Homo sapiens: one gene and its partners. Each later gene encodes a partner of the first gene's protein in a complex. Each region holds a gene or a part of one and is shown on either strand. Other genes may lie near its edges.

What was found.
Region 2: SF3A3 (region 1) and HTATSF1 share a complex: the UniProt entries of both Homo sapiens proteins name them as parts of the 17S U2 SnRNP complex.
Region 3: SF3A3 (region 1) and SF3B3 share a complex: the UniProt entries of both Homo sapiens proteins name them as parts of the 17S U2 SnRNP complex.

What each region holds. Positions count from the first base shown.
Region 1 is NC_000001.11:37,956,354-37,959,036, forward strand, and holds the end of SF3A3 (splicing factor 3A subunit 3), read right to left. Parts: intron 1,911-2,683; coding exon 1,833-1,910; 3' UTR 622-1,832; downstream 1-621. UniProt on the Homo sapiens protein: Component of the 17S U2 SnRNP complex of the spliceosome, a large ribonucleoprotein complex that removes introns from transcribed pre-mRNAs.
Region 2 is NC_000023.11:136,507,561-136,512,950, reverse strand, and holds the end of HTATSF1 (17S U2 SnRNP complex component HTATSF1), read right to left. Parts: intron 3,861-5,390; coding exon 3,771-3,860; intron 2,870-3,770; coding exon 2,732-2,869; intron 2,144-2,731; coding exon 938-2,143; 3' UTR 605-937; downstream 1-604. UniProt on the Homo sapiens protein: Component of the 17S U2 SnRNP complex of the spliceosome, a large ribonucleoprotein complex that removes introns from transcribed pre-mRNAs.
Region 3 is NC_000016.10:70,526,780-70,533,914, forward strand, and holds part of SF3B3 (splicing factor 3B subunit 3), read left to right. Parts: intron 1-2,093; coding exon 2,094-2,420; intron 2,421-2,719; exon of another isoform or gene 2,720-2,820; intron 2,821-3,965; coding exon 3,966-4,138; intron 4,139-5,699; coding exon 5,700-5,841; intron 5,842-7,135. UniProt on the Homo sapiens protein: Component of the 17S U2 SnRNP complex of the spliceosome, a large ribonucleoprotein complex that removes introns from transcribed pre-mRNAs.

The DNA of each region.
Region 1 (2,683 bases):
GCACCCGACCTGGAGTCTTAAATGAAGGAGTGAAGGCACAAGGGAATGAGTTGCACAGGGATGGGCTGAACTAGGAAGGAAAATACCAACCTAGAGTGCAGTGCCACTGGGGTGGGGGTGGTGAAACTTTACTGCCATGGAAATAACCAGGGCAAAAGATTGGTGTGAGGCAGAAGGCTAATTCAAGTTGGGATTTTTTTTTTTTTTTTTTTGAGACGGAGTCTCGCTGTCACCCAGGCTGGAGTGCAGTGGCGTGATCTCGGCTCATGGCAACCTTCGCCTCCTGGGTTCAAGTGATCCTCCTGCCTCAGTCTCCTGAGTACCTGGGACTACAGGTGCATGCCATCACGCCTGGCTAATTTTTGTATTTTTAGTAGAGACAGGGTTTCGCCATGTTGGCCAGGCTGGTCTCCAACTCCTGACCTCAAGTAATTTGCTGCCCTCGGCCTCCCAAAGTGTTTGGATTACAGGCATCAGCTACTGCGCATGGCCTGAGTTGGAATTTTTAAAAGTAGATATATTAGCCAGCCTGCCTCTGCATGGGATGAGTGCGGCACTGGTTCTTGGTAGGTTTTTAGAAAAATAAGATATAAATGTGTAATATAAAGAAAAAGATTAACATTTTTTTAAAAAGTAGATTTATTAAAAAACAGTTGAAGGTCTGAGTGTTGAGAGGCAAATGGGGTCTCTGGGGGATCCTGTCCTGCAGCAGGCCTGACTTTCAGATGACTGTGCTTATAAGGCAGATCAGTGCCTTCCTGGTTGCCTTAGTTCTTTCCATTTCAGACACCACATTTGGATCCTGGGGCAGCTGCTCAACTCTACCCAACTCTACCATGGCTACCTGGGATTGGAGAACATGTGAGTATTAGCTACTTTTACAGTCAAATAGGGATCTTGTAGAAGAAACAGGTAGACAGACCCACCAGTCTCTCATTCTGACCTAGCAAGCTGGTGAAGTCACTGTCGGTCCTAGTTCCCTTGTTTGTTGGGCTGCAGGCCCATTCCAACACAGCCCAACTCCCCCCCCCCCCCCTTTTTTTTTTTTTGAGATGGGGCCTCACTATATCGCCCAGGCTGGTCTCAAACTCCTAGGTTCAAAGGATCTTCTAGCCTCAGTCTCCTGAGTAGCTGGGACTACAGTGCGTGCCACCATGCCTTTTTTTTTTTTTTAATGAGACAGGGTCTCACTATGTTACCTAGGCTAGTCTCAAGCAACCCTCCTGCCTCAGCCTCCCAAGTAGCTGGGACTACAGGCACAAGCCACTGCACCCAGCTCCAACTCCTTTCTTTATGCAAATACAAAAGGCAAACCTTGGTGCGACACTTAGTCCTTAGTAGCAACCCTGGCTCATCCTCCTAGTCTTTCCCTAGTATTTGCATCAATGGCTAACTAAGCTGATGGCAGACCTCATCCTGGGGTAATACTCATTCAGGGAAGCAGCAACAAAGGAGGGTGGGGAAAGAGGTCAGGTCAGATTTACCTAACATGATATGTAGCATAATAGGTGCCCATTAAATCTCAGCTACTAGTAAAGTTGGTGAGGAAGAGGTATGGAGGCGTTAAGACCTGAAGCACTGAGTTGGTCCATAACCCTGGGCTTTAGAACAAGGTCTGGTTTTATTTTCTGGCAGAATCTTTTAAAATATAAAACAGATAAAACACATCTCAACCCTGCAATCTGCCAGCATGCCTTGTTTCTACAAGATGCATGCTAGACCATGAGACTACATAGCAAAGGGTCTTTAAGAGGATTTGGTTGGGAGAAATAGAAAAAGCAGATCTTAGGGAAGCCTGGGCTAGCCCAAAAGCTGAGCTACATCCCTGAACACTAGAGCAGTCCTTGTCTTTTCAGATCCTCGTATGTCTTCTTATTCACAACATTCCCACTTGAGTCTTCATATTCTTCCTGAAAAGGAAGGGGTACACTTTGTTAGACAGCTCTCCTAAAAGAAATGTTTGGAACCAATCTCTAAGTACCTGAGCTCATCCTGGCCTGATTCCATGGCATACTCTGGTACACTAAGATTGGCATTCATCTAAGCCTTTCTCAACTGGGGTTCCACAAGAGAATTAAGTCCCACTGCCCCAAAGCAGCCACCGTGTGCAATGAATTAACTTCTCTCGTAGACATCTAGAATGATATCAGTCATGACCCATCATTAGAGTATCTGAGAAAATAGTTTATTTAGCTCTCTATGTTTAAGATGGGGAACCCTGGTTGAGAAAGGCTGACCTACAACAGCAGTTTTCAAATGGTTCCCAAGAATCCCAGGATTCTGCTCAGAGGCCATTGCAGGGGTTGAAAGGGAAGCCAGGAAGTCTGAGCTTCCCCATGTCCAGGGCAATTCTGCTTGATTCTATTTTATATATCAGAGTACTATATTACAAGTGGAAGAGAGTTTTGCTGCCAAAAAGAAAAAAAATACTGAAAACCACTGACTCAAAAAAAGGGAGGCTATTGTCAGTTACTATGGGACTTGGAGTGAGTCAGTACCATTCCTTACATACATGTCATTCTTGATCTCTGAAACCTGCTGCTTGGGATGACCATCATAAGACCAACAAGGACATCTCCCTGTCGCTATGAGAGTATCATCTCTCATTAGATGCTTTCCTCAAAGGAGATCTAATACATGATACAGAGTCTCGGCATTTTAGTCTATAAATCTCCATGGCAGA
Region 2 (5,390 bases), on another chromosome or scaffold:
TCATCACTACTGAATTTGGAAAGCATAATCAAGAAAGACCCATAACTTTATTGGGACTACACAACTTTGCACAGTGCTAGGCACTATGATTCTAAAAAAACGAACAACTGAAGCATGCATGAAGTTCTTCAACTTCAGGGAATCCATGAACCTCCCCAAACAGTACACAAGTTGTGTAGTGTAGTGTGTACATTTTTTTCTGGGAAGAGGTCCTCTAATTTGAATTAACTTCTAAAGGGGCCCAGAGACGCTAACAGTACAAGGTAGAATTCTAATCTGTTTCTTTAGATTTTTAATAATAATGGGAGCTGTAGACTGCAGGAAGTTCACTTTTGCACATCTGAGAGTCAATTTTAATGGAAAGAGGGTAGAAAACAAACAAGAGTTAATTTGCAAGGACTGGGCAGAAAAAAAAAATCCAGAGGGTTGTTTTCTGAGTTTAGGAACATGTTCTGGTTTATAGAGAGGAAATGGAGACATACGTGCTAATACCAGCGGGAAGCAAGGAGACTCCAAAGAGATTCTTCAAGTCCTCAGAAAAGCCAACCTTCAGTATAAATAAAGCAATATCAAGAATTTAAAATGCAATTTAACTCAAGTCCAATTTTCAGTTTCTGCATATTATCAACTCATTTTTATTGATGAATATCACAAACTTCAATCAATACTCTTAAAAATATTATTCTGCATGCATTTAACAAATCTGACAAAAGAACAAGTATCCAGTTTACTTGCATTGTAACTATGACATTTTAACTAAACAATCAATTAACATATATTTAAAACCATTAGGTACAGGTAACAATGAAACACTTCAATGCTTTAATCTGATGGCATCCTACCACTATGCACATGTTCATGTAACACTACTAGTAATTACCCTGAAGCACAGGCAAATGTAGATGGAGGACTCTCCCTAAAAAGCAAGTTTAAGGGATTAAATATCATCGTCATCATCATCGCTACTGAGAATAAAGCTGCTGCCAGTGGATAGGGGCCCTTCTTCAACACTCCCAAAACCACCCAAAGTCCCCCTCTCATCAGAATCGTCAAACAACTTCTCACTGGAATCTTCCTCCTCATCAAACAACTTCTCATTGGAATCATCATCTTCGAACAACTTTTCGTCAGCATCTTCAACTTCCTTTCCATCTGCATCTTCATCTTCCTTGTCATCTGACTCTTCAAACAGCTTTTCATCTGCATCACCTTCTTCCGCCTTTTTATCAGCAGCTTCAAGCCCCTTTTCATCTGCATATTCTTCATCCTCTTTCTCATCAGACTCATCATCAAATACTTTTTCATATGTATCCTCCTCTTCTTCCTTTTCATCTGAATCTTCGTCAAACTCTCTCTCAGAGCCTTCCTCATCTAACACTTTTTCAGAGCCGTCATCTTCAAATTCGGAGTTTTCAGAGTCATTTTCTTCTAACTCTTTGTCAAGAACATTTTCATGAAGCTCCTTTTCAGAACCTTCCTCGTCCAAATCTTTCTCGAGACCATTTTCTTCAAATTCTCTTTCGGAGCCATCTTCAGACTGTTTTTCAGAGCAGTCTTCATCAGACTCTTTCTCTGAGTCATCTTCTTCGGACTCTTTTGTGGGGCCAACCTCCTCTTCAGACTCCTTGTTGAGGTCATCTTCAGATTCCTTTGCAAGGCCATTCTCTTCACAATCATTTTTGAGTGTCTTCTTTTTAGACTCTTTTTTAGGACTATCCTCTTCAGATCCTCTTACGGGATTGCCTTCTTCAGACTCTTTTTGGGAGCAGCTGCCTTCAAACCCTCTTTTGGGGCAGCCCTCTTCAGATTCTTTTTCAGGGCAGCCTTCTTCAGCCTCTTTTTCGGGGCTACTTTCCTTAGCATTGTTTTCAGAAGCACCTTCTTCAAATTCTCCCCCATCTTCTGTCTTTTCAAACTTCTTCTCATCTATAGGTTCTTCAAACGCCATTCCAGTTGCAGTTTCTTGAGCATTCATTTTAGATGTGCTGGGGTGCTCTGAAAAATGCCTTGCTCTAGAAGGCCCTGCCCTTTCGGAAGCAGAGACAGAATCTGAACGCCTAAGGCCTCTGTTGGCCTCAGGAGCATTGAGGAAAGCCTCCCATCCTCTCAGCCTTTCCTCCCTTTCTCTTGAGGTTTCCTCCACCTGTGGATAAATGGAGACTGCCATTAAAATAAGTTTCAGGCAAAAGGTTACTTCTCTGAACATATCTAATATTGATGAAACAACCTTAATTTTATAAAGCATCTCTTATTAGGAAATGAAAGCAATTCCATCTTCAGTTTTCAAAACTTTACATCTTGATTTACTAGAGTTGACCTTAAATAAGACCACTTAAATAAAGGCCAAATATCACAGTACTGCAGAAATGTCTCATCTCTTAAAAAGTTAATATTTGAGCTCTGTCTATACTTTACAGCATACAAAGGAAGAGTAACATTTGGTTGAATGTGTTCTTTTCTTATCACTATTCTGAACAAGCCTCAAACTTTCAGACTTAGAAACTGAAAGACTCAAACATTTCTCTATCTTCTGAATGCAAAATATTATTTAAAAGCAGCACTGTAAATAATTAAGAGGAAGAGTAAAAAATTAAAATATATAAGTAAATAAAAATAAAAGAAGCATTGTTACATTAAATAGGTTAAACCAAACCCAAAATTTAGATCTGAAGGATCAGTATTTGTTGGTAATGAAACAATGTGTGTGCCCTTGACAAGCAGCAAAATTTACCTGATAATCTGTAGTCCCATCCCATGCCTGGGCAGTGATTTGACGGCCACCAAACCATCTTCCATCGAGAGTCTGAATACAATAATCAGCTTCCTCTGGATCCCGAAAGGACACAGAGGCCACACCATCTGGGTGCCTCTAGAAAGATAAGAAAGAAAAAAAAGGAATGAATGATAAGATTAAAAATAAAACACATACATTTCACAAAGTAGGTAAGTAGTAGTGTTCTCTCTGATACTCTGAAGTAAAAGACTTTATGTATGAAGTCTTTCTTCCATTTTATCCCAGCCAGTCACGTGCAGTCAGCTGCTTCTTTACCTCAATCTTACCTAGCAAGAACCAAGCACAATGTCCTTGGAAATGTTTCTGCTGACATCCCTGTCTAATGAGAAGCAGGACAGTATAATTGTTAAGAGTGTAAACTCTGAAGTCATATTGCCCTGGGATTAAATCCTGGCTCTGTCAGTTACCAAATGAACAACCTTGAGCCAGGTGTTCAATTTCTAAAGTGTTAGCTTCCTCATCTGTAAAATGGGTGTAATAGTGCTAACCTGCCTCAAAGGGTTTTGAGAAGTGAGATAACATGTAAAGTAGCTTGTAATACACAAGCAATAAATGGTGACTCTTAATTATTGGGTGTCAATTCTGGAAGTAAAAAGAGGATGAGAAGAGGAAATATACAGGAGAATATTGTCCCTGATTGTTCCAAATATGGAGGATGAGAATAATTCACAAAGAGGGGAAAATGTGACTAATAGGGAACCAGAGATCTCATACATTTTTCCTGTACCTTCTTTCACCTGATCATGTACTCTAGGGTAATGAAGACGGAAAATAAGCAAGGCATACCAAATCTATCAAATCCTTGGCTTGTAATCCACGTTCATCTCATTATTGCTAATAGATGATTATCACAAGATAGTGGACTACTATATAAAAACATTAATCTAAAATTCAGGGGTATACTAACATCTGAGAAGAACTTATAAGGTGGAGGAATTATTGCTTTAGGATCCATATGTCCAAGCCATGAACTTACATCAAAGAGAAGGAGTTTCCTAATTTGTCCAAACTTCGAACACTCTACTCGAAGGTCTTCTCTGATCTCATTCAGCACCAACGGATCATCCTGAAAAATATGCATGATTAAAATGGGTTTGCTCCCTTCTTTAACTATAAATCCTGAGAATCCAATTTCTTGTTCTGATAAATCAACAAACAGAAAAAGGTTTTGCTTAAGGTTGTGTTTTTCATTCTATACAATTTTTTAAAAACTCAAAATCAAATAAAATTATACTACTACATACACTGCTACTCCTATAGGTTTGCCCTGCTTTAAACAAAGGAAATGGACAAGTATGGCAGGCAGCAGAAGGGGCCTACAGTGGCAGAGCAGGAGAAGATGGTGGAAGTCCTGTGGCGCATATTCAGTCAGACTGCTAATTCCTATGCTCTGCATGGGCATCAACATCACACTGATAAGAGCCCTTTGCTTTGTGTTTTGGATACATTCCTATTTACAGAAATGTTGTAATGGAGAGAGAGAGAGCAATATATCCCTTTTATTGACTAAGTGTCCTAAGATTGATTTTTGTGCTTCCAAGATGCTATTTTAACTCACAGAATAAACATCGTAAGGATTACTGTTCGTCTTGTCTCCTACCACATTGTAACAGAACCATACAAATAAGGAGCTGTTATTAAGCATGCAATAAAATACATTCTTAGCTGTTGCTTTCTTGCAACTATGAGCCTATTAAGAACATTCAAGTACTGCTGTTTCTAGTAGCCTAGAGTTCGGGTGGAAATCTCCCTATAACAACAAAATGATTTAAGATTCCCTCTGGGAATTAACAAATCTCTCTCCAAGTACCAATGCATAAAAAGGGCTCAGGAAAAGCTACATTATCAGCTTGAATTTCAACTATATACAAATATAAATGAAGATATCCTATCTACAAATTTCTATTGAAGGTGACTTATACTTTCTAGGAAACATTTAAGCGCATCTATCTTTCTTACACGCTTTCATTTTTCTCATCAGCTAAAGAGGAACTATAGAGAATTGTGGCTTTCCTCCCATAAGGTTCTTCAAAAAGCAAAAATAAGCTGGCAGGGAGTTACTGAAATCTGATTTAAAATAAAAAATATAAAATCATACTCATTTGCATAAATCTGAGGCTTCTAAAACTACAGTTGGCAGAACTCTGGACTTCCCCACTTATAAAACTCAATTTTGGAGAAGCAGCCAATTTGCTTTATACAAAATGATCAGACCTGAGAAGAATAAGGAGTAGAGAATAAAAGTTATGGCTTTTGACATGTGTGTGTGTGTGTGGGGTTAGCTCCTATTAGAGTGAGTGCTTTCAGAAGGCAGGACCTTTGTTTTATTGAGTTTCAGATACCTCACAGAAAATAGCACAGACTTTTGTACAAAGCCAATATTCAAGAAAATCTTTTTAAGAATTTGATAAACTGTTTCTAATACCTCTCTTTTATTCACCAAGGAAAATCAGGATTATATCAAAAACAAAAAAAAAACTGTGTCAACATGTTTAACAACTTTTAAATTGAAGCGTGATTCCATGGTGGGGGTAGGCATCACCTCCATTTCTACACCAATGTCTCAGTGCTTTGCTTTCTTTCTTTTTTTTTTTTG
Region 3 (7,135 bases), on another chromosome or scaffold:
TGCTTAGTCTCTTGTGCAGGAAATGTTTTCCATTTATGACAAAACAGTTGTTGGTAAATGTAAACAATTCAAATTATGAGATGAGGTGTTAAGTTCTGGTGCATTATCTGTTACCTATTTCAGATGCATTTCCTAGTTCACAAATTGTGTAATGATTCTTGTCAGGGCACACTTTTCTTGGCTGCTTACCTAGTGCCAAGTCGTGTGCCTATTGCTGTAAGACATACTGAGATGTGTAAGACCTGATCTTTGATCTTGAATTTGACATCAGGTTGGGTAAAAAGAATGTCTGAAGGTGTTTGTCTGGTTATCAGAGAGTAATTTAAATAAAGGGAAGGTTGGACCTTGGTTTGGTGCTTGAAGAGATAGAACTTTTGTATGAGAGAAAAGGGAAAATGCAGTTTAGGTAGGGAGTGCTGTCTGCATAGAAACAGATAATTTGCTTACGTTTACCATGTGGGGAATATTTTTGTAAAGATGGATTAAGGCTAGGTTTGAATTGTGTGAAATTTCAAATATTGGATTAGGAAATACAAAGTTACTGAAAGTGAGGTACTAATGTTTATAAAATAAAAACTTTTTCTTGCCATTTGCAGATTTAACATTTTTGAGTCAATCCAAGTAATGCAGGAGGTTCATGATTGTGTAGAGTAAGACATAATTTTGTTGAGGTTTAACTCTGAATACTTAATGTGGTACTGAATACTTAATGTGGTACTGAGAGGCAGCCTAACTGACCACACAGCATTCATATTTCATGTTGTTATTTTCTCTGATCCTCATTATGGCTCTTCCTGCGGGTTTGAGTCTTCATTTGGGTAATTTAGTTATTCTTTGCTGCATTTGATTAAGGAAATACGTATATGGGAATTTGGAGATTTGTGACTGACTTCACTATGTAATGCAATGAATCTCAGCTGGAGTTTGGATAGAATTTTTGAAAGCACGTTTTTGTTTTTTGTTTGTTTTGTTTTTGTTTTTTGTTTGTTTTGTTTTTGTTTTTGTTTTTTCCTTGAAACAGAGTCCTGCTCTGTCACCCAGGCTGGAGCGCAGTGGTGTGATCTTGGCTCACTGCCACCTCCGCCTCCTGGGTTCAAGCGATTCTCCTGCCTCAGCCTCCTGAGTAGCTGGGATTACATGCGTGCACCACCATGCCCGGCTAATTTTTCATATTTTTAGTAGAGATGAGGTTTCACCATATTGGCCAGGCTGATCTCGAATTCCTGACCTCGTGATCCACCCACCTTAGCCTCCCAAAGTGCTGGGATTACAGGCATGAGCTACTGTGCCCTGCTGAAAGCACATTTTTAATACTAATTTTATCTTTCAAATTCCTTTTCCAATTCAGTCTTCCTTTTTATCTAAAATGATGGAGAAGTTTTCTTTTTTTTTTTTTTTTTTTTGAGACGTAGTCTTGCTGTGTTGCCCAGGCTGGAGTACAGTAGTGCGACCTCGGCTCACTGCAAACTCCGTCTCCCAGGTTCAAGCGATTCTCCTGTGTCAGCCTCTGGAGTAGCTGGGATTATAGGCACGTGCCACCACACCTGGCTAATTTTTGTATTTTTAGTAGAGATGGGATCCCACCATGTTGGCCAGGCTGGTTTCAAACTCCTGACCTCAAGTGATCTGCCTGCCTCAGCCTCCCAAAGTGCTGGGATAACAGGTGTGAGCCACTGTGCGTGGCCTTTTTTTTTTTTTTTTTTTTTTTTAGAGACGATATCTTGCTGCGTTTCCCAGGATGGAGTGCAATGGCAGGATTATAACCCACTACATTCTCTGAACTCCTGGGTTCAAACTGTCCTCCCACGTAGCTGGGACTAGAGGCACAGGCCATCACACCTGACTAATTTTTTTTTGAGACGGAGTTTTGCTCTGTTGCCCAGGCCGGAGTGCAGTGGCACAGTCTTGGCTCACAGCAACCTCTACCTCCTGGGTTCAAGCGATTCTCCTGCCTTAGCCTCCCGAGTAGCTGGGATTACAGGCATGTGCCACCACGCCTGGCTAATTTTTGTATTTTTAGTAGAGACGGGGTTTCACCATGGTGGCCAGGCTGGGTTCTGGTTGTTTATGATCTTTATTTTTTGGTGATCTAGGAACCAAACAACAAGAAATTGTTGTTTCCCGTGGGAAGATCTTGGAGCTGCTTCGCCCAGACCCCAACACTGGCAAAGTACATACCCTACTCACTGTGGAAGTATTCGGTGTTATCCGGTCACTCATGGCCTTTAGGCTGACAGGTGGCACCAAAGACTACATTGTAGTTGGCAGTGACTCTGGTCGAATTGTTATTTTGGAATACCAGCCATCTAAGAATATGTTTGAGAAGATTCACCAAGAAACCTTTGGCAAGAGTGGATGCCGTCGCATCGTTCCTGGCCAGTTCTTAGCTGTGGATCCCAAAGGGCGAGCCGTTATGATTAGTAAGTGATTTACTCTACTTGCTGTATATGCCTAGTTTAGGATAACAATGCTGTGCTCTTGGTGGTGTGCCAGTGCCAATTAATTACTTATGTGGGTTTGGCATCATGTTTGGATTTACTCTAGGTTTAAAGTTGCATTTCCTTTTTAAAAGAGTTGCATTTTCTTTTAAAACAATGGGAAAAATCTTAACACACCTTTCTACTTCCCATCTAGTTGGAAATGGGTGTTTTTCAATTTCTTTTTCTTTGGCAAAAAGACTACAATGAAATGATCTTATGTTATTAGACAGTGAATATCGTTGCTTTCATCAGCCTGAAGTGATGATTCACATTCATGTCTCTTCTCTGATAAATTCTTGAAGAAAATTTTTGTGTGTCTGATCAGGCCTCTAGAGGGCAGTCATAAATCGTTAGATCTATTTCAGAGAATAAGGCTAATGATAATTTTATGAATTACTGTTTTTCAGTATCCTTAAATGTAGGACTCATTAAAAAATTTTGACTAGTTAGTGGGATATTTAAGACCTGTATTAGGAAGAAGGGGGCCACAATGATGCCATTGTCTTTAAAAAAATTTATTTATTTATTTTTAAGAGATGGGGGTCTCAGCCGGGCACGGTGGCTATTTATCTTTAAAAGAGATGGGGTCTCAGCCAGGTGCGGTGGCTCACACCTGTAATCCCAGCACTTTGGGAGGCCAAGGTGGGAGGATCACTTGAGGTCAGGAGTTTGAGACCAGCCTGGCCAACATGGTGAAACCCAGTCTCTACCAAAAATACAAAAAATTAGCTGGGTGTGGTGGTGGGTGCCTGTAATCCCAGCTACTTGGGGCAGGAGAATCGCTTGAACCCGGGAGGCAAAGGTTGCAGTGAGCCGAGATAGCGCTACTGCACTCCAGCCCGGACGACAGAGTGAGACTGCATCTCAAAAATAAATAAATAAATAAATAAATAAATAAATAAATAAATAAATAAGAGAGAGATGGGGATCTCACAATGCTGCCCAGGATGGTCTTGAATTCCTGGGCTCAAGCAATCCTTCCTTCTGTCTTGGCCTCCCAAAGTGCTGGGATTACAGACTTGAGCCACTGTGCCCAGCTCCACTATTGTCTATTCTTTTTTTTTTTTTTTTTCAAATGAGGCAGAGTTTCGCACTTGTTGCCCAGGCTGGAGTGCAGTGGTGCGATCTCAGCTCACTGCAACCTTTGCGTCTCAGGTTCAAGCAATTCTCCTGCCCCAGCCTCCCAAGTAGCTGGGATTAGAGGCATGCACCACCACACCTAGCTAATTTTTTGTATTTAGTAGAGACAAGGTTTTACTGTGTTAGTCAGGCTGGTCTTGAACTCCTGACCTCAGGTGATCCACCCACCTCAGCCTCCCAAAGTGCTATTCTGATGATAGAAAACAGAATCCTGAGTTTTTATACTTGTAGAGTTACTGCTGTTAATAATGATTAAAAGAAAAGCATGATGTGACTCTAGCTGTTCTATAAGTCTCTCTTCTCATTATCTGGGAATCTTGTATGTTTTATCTCCTTCAACTACAGGTGCCATTGAGAAACAGAAATTGGTGTATATTTTGAACAGAGATGCTGCAGCCCGACTTACCATTTCATCTCCCCTGGAAGCCCACAAAGCAAACACTTTAGTGTATCATGTAGTTGGAGTAGATGTCGGATTTGAAAATCCAATGTTTGCTTGTCTGGAAATGGATTATGAGGTAATGGGGACCCTGTCTCTTTGCGTTTCTTTCAGTCACCTCAGTGTTTTTTTTTAAGATTGTTTTCCGGCCGGGCGTGGTGGCTCACGCCTGTAATCCCAGCACTTTGGGAGGCAAGGCTGGCGGATCATGAGGTCAGGAGATCGAGACCATTCTGGCTAACACAGTGAAACCCCATCTCTACTAAAAATACAAAAAGAAAATAGCCGGGCATCGTGGCGGGCGCCTGTGGTCCAGCTACTCGGGAAGCTGAGGCAGGAGAATGGCGTGAACCCGGGAGGTGGAGCTTGCAGTGAGCCGAGATCTCGCCACTGCACTCCAGCCTGGGCGACAGAGTGAGACTCCATCTCAAAAAAAAACGAAAAGATCGTTTTCTTCCTTGTGCATACCTTTTTTTCTTTTTTTTGAGACAGTCTTGCTCTGTTGCCCAGGCTGGGGTGCAGTGGCACAATCTCAGCTCGCTGCAACCTCTGCCTCAGCCTCCTGAGTAGCTGGGACTACAGGTGCTGCCACAACGCCCAGCTAATTTTTGTATTTTTAGTAGAGATGGGGTTTCACTATGTTGGCCAGGCTGGTCTTCTGACCCCAGGTGATTGGCCCACCTCAGCCTTCCAGAGTGCTGGGATTATAAGGCCTGAGCCACCTCACCCAGGCCCAGCCCCTTATGCATATCTTAATTCTGTCCTGCTAGCAGATCTTCATATTCCAAATGCCTTACTGAAATTCTTTGGGATGCTTCAGAGGTTAAGCAACTATTTAATAGTCTTTCTCTGATTTAAGTAATCTCCCTATGGAAACAAGATATTTATTGGGAAAAGCTTCATGAAAAACTTGAAGCTATGTTTAAGGTATTTTTTCACAGAACATACTATTGTTTTCCTTTAACGGAAGGCAGTATCCTCTAGTAGAGAGCTCCCTGGATCCAGAATTTGGAGATTGCAGTTCTCGTTCTAGCTCTGCCATTATCTTATAGCATAAACTTTGTCAAACTATTTGGCGTCAGCCAGGTGTGGTGGCATGTGCCTATAGTCCTAGCTGCTTGGGAGCCTGAGGCCCAGGAATTCTAGGCTGCAGTGAGATAAGATTGTACCACTGCAGTCGTGTACAGTGGCTCACGCCTGTAATCCAAGTTTGGGAGGCCGAGGCGGGCAGATCACCTGAGGTCAGGAGTTCGAGACCAGCCTGACCAACATGGAGAAACCCCATCTCTACTAAAAATACAAAATTAGCCAGGCGTGGTGGCACATGCTTGTAATCCCAGCAACTCGGGAGGCTGAGGCAGGAGAATCACTTGAACCTGGGAGGTGGAGGTTGTGGTGAGCTGAGATCGTGCCATTGCACTCCAGCCTGGGCAACGAGCAAAACTCCGTCTCAAAAAAAAAAAAAGATCATACCTCTGTGCACTGCAGCCTGGGTGACATAGTGAGAACCTGTCTCTCCAAAAAAAAAAGAAGACATTTGTGGACTTCTGTTTCCTCATTTGTAAATTGGAGTCCTGATGTCCTTTCCAGATCTTCGATTTTATGCTGATGATTAGTTTTTATGCCACTATTCTCTGTAGGAAGCAGACAATGATCCAACAGGGGAAGCAGCAGCTAATACCCAGCAGACACTTACTTTCTATGAGCTAGACCTTGGTTTAAATCATGTGGTCCGAAAATACAGTGAACCTTTGGAGGAACACGGCAACTTCCTTATTACAGGTACTTTTCTTTCAGAGCTGCTTTGTACCCTTTTACTTGGTTCATTTTATGCCCAAACCTAATAGGTTTTACTTAAAGGGTTTGGGAATTAATCCATTTGTTGTGAACCTGAATACCTTATCTTTTGGACAGGTTAGAAGTTCATGTGGTGGAGTGATTTTAAAAAGTGTTGGGGATAAAGACTGCCTAGCTCCTTAATAACTCATATTCTACTGAGGGCAGGGAAGAGAAGTTGAAGGGAGCAGTCAGCTTGGAATATTGATTACTGTTAGTTGCTGTGACAGTTTGGCTGTAGTCAGTCTTTGCCTCTCATTCAAACCTAACTCTTTCAAAAGCCAAACAAAATGGACAGACCCCACAAGATGGAACTTGTGAATTTGAAAACTTAAACAAAATAGAAATATTTTTGAAGACGATTACCAGATTGATCCAAAAATAAATTAAGAACTTCAATAGACCAGCGTTAGAGAAATTGAAGCAGTAGTCCAAAGTCACTCTCCCAAAAGATTGAGGTCCAGGATTTTCAGGAAAGCTTTTATCTTCTTGTTGAGGGACATATATGTATTCCGTTTTAAAACAAGTTTCTCGGCTGGGCATGGTGGCTCACGCCTATAACCCTAGCACTTTAGGAGGCTGAGGCAGGAGCATCACTTGATCTCAGGAGTTTGAGACCATCCTGGGAAACAAGGTGAGATCTTGTCTCAATGAAAAAGTAAATATTAAAAAAAAAAGTAAAACAGATTTCTCTAGAGTAGAAAAAGAGTAAATGCTACTGTGCCGCTCTCTGAGTCTAGTATGACTACAGTATCAAAACTAGGGATGGACAGTAACAAAAAAAATTTGCAGGCTAGTTCATACGGTTGTAGATAGGAAAAGCTAACATTCCAGCAAATCAGATTCAGTGTTTTAAATGCACATAGCTAAGTAACGTTTTTGGAGGAGCTAAAAAATGGAAAATATTTTCATGGTTGGAAATCAGTTCACCATTGGAAAATACACGTTACTAATTGATTATATTAAAAGACTAAATGAGTACAGCTACATTTGTGGTCATCTGCATTTCAGCAGGCTTGGGGAAAACTGATCTAGTTCTATTTTGAATCATTTGCACTTCAACTGATGTCTAAAATAAGATGTTGTTTGGGGAAGATACTGGAGAATAAAAATAAAGGACAGCACTTACCTTTGTTAATACGTTAAGCAGATGAATTTTTGATCACACATCTCATTACTTGTAACATATTACCATACCTTTCATTTACAAGGGCTTTTTCATTCTTTCAACACATTTTTA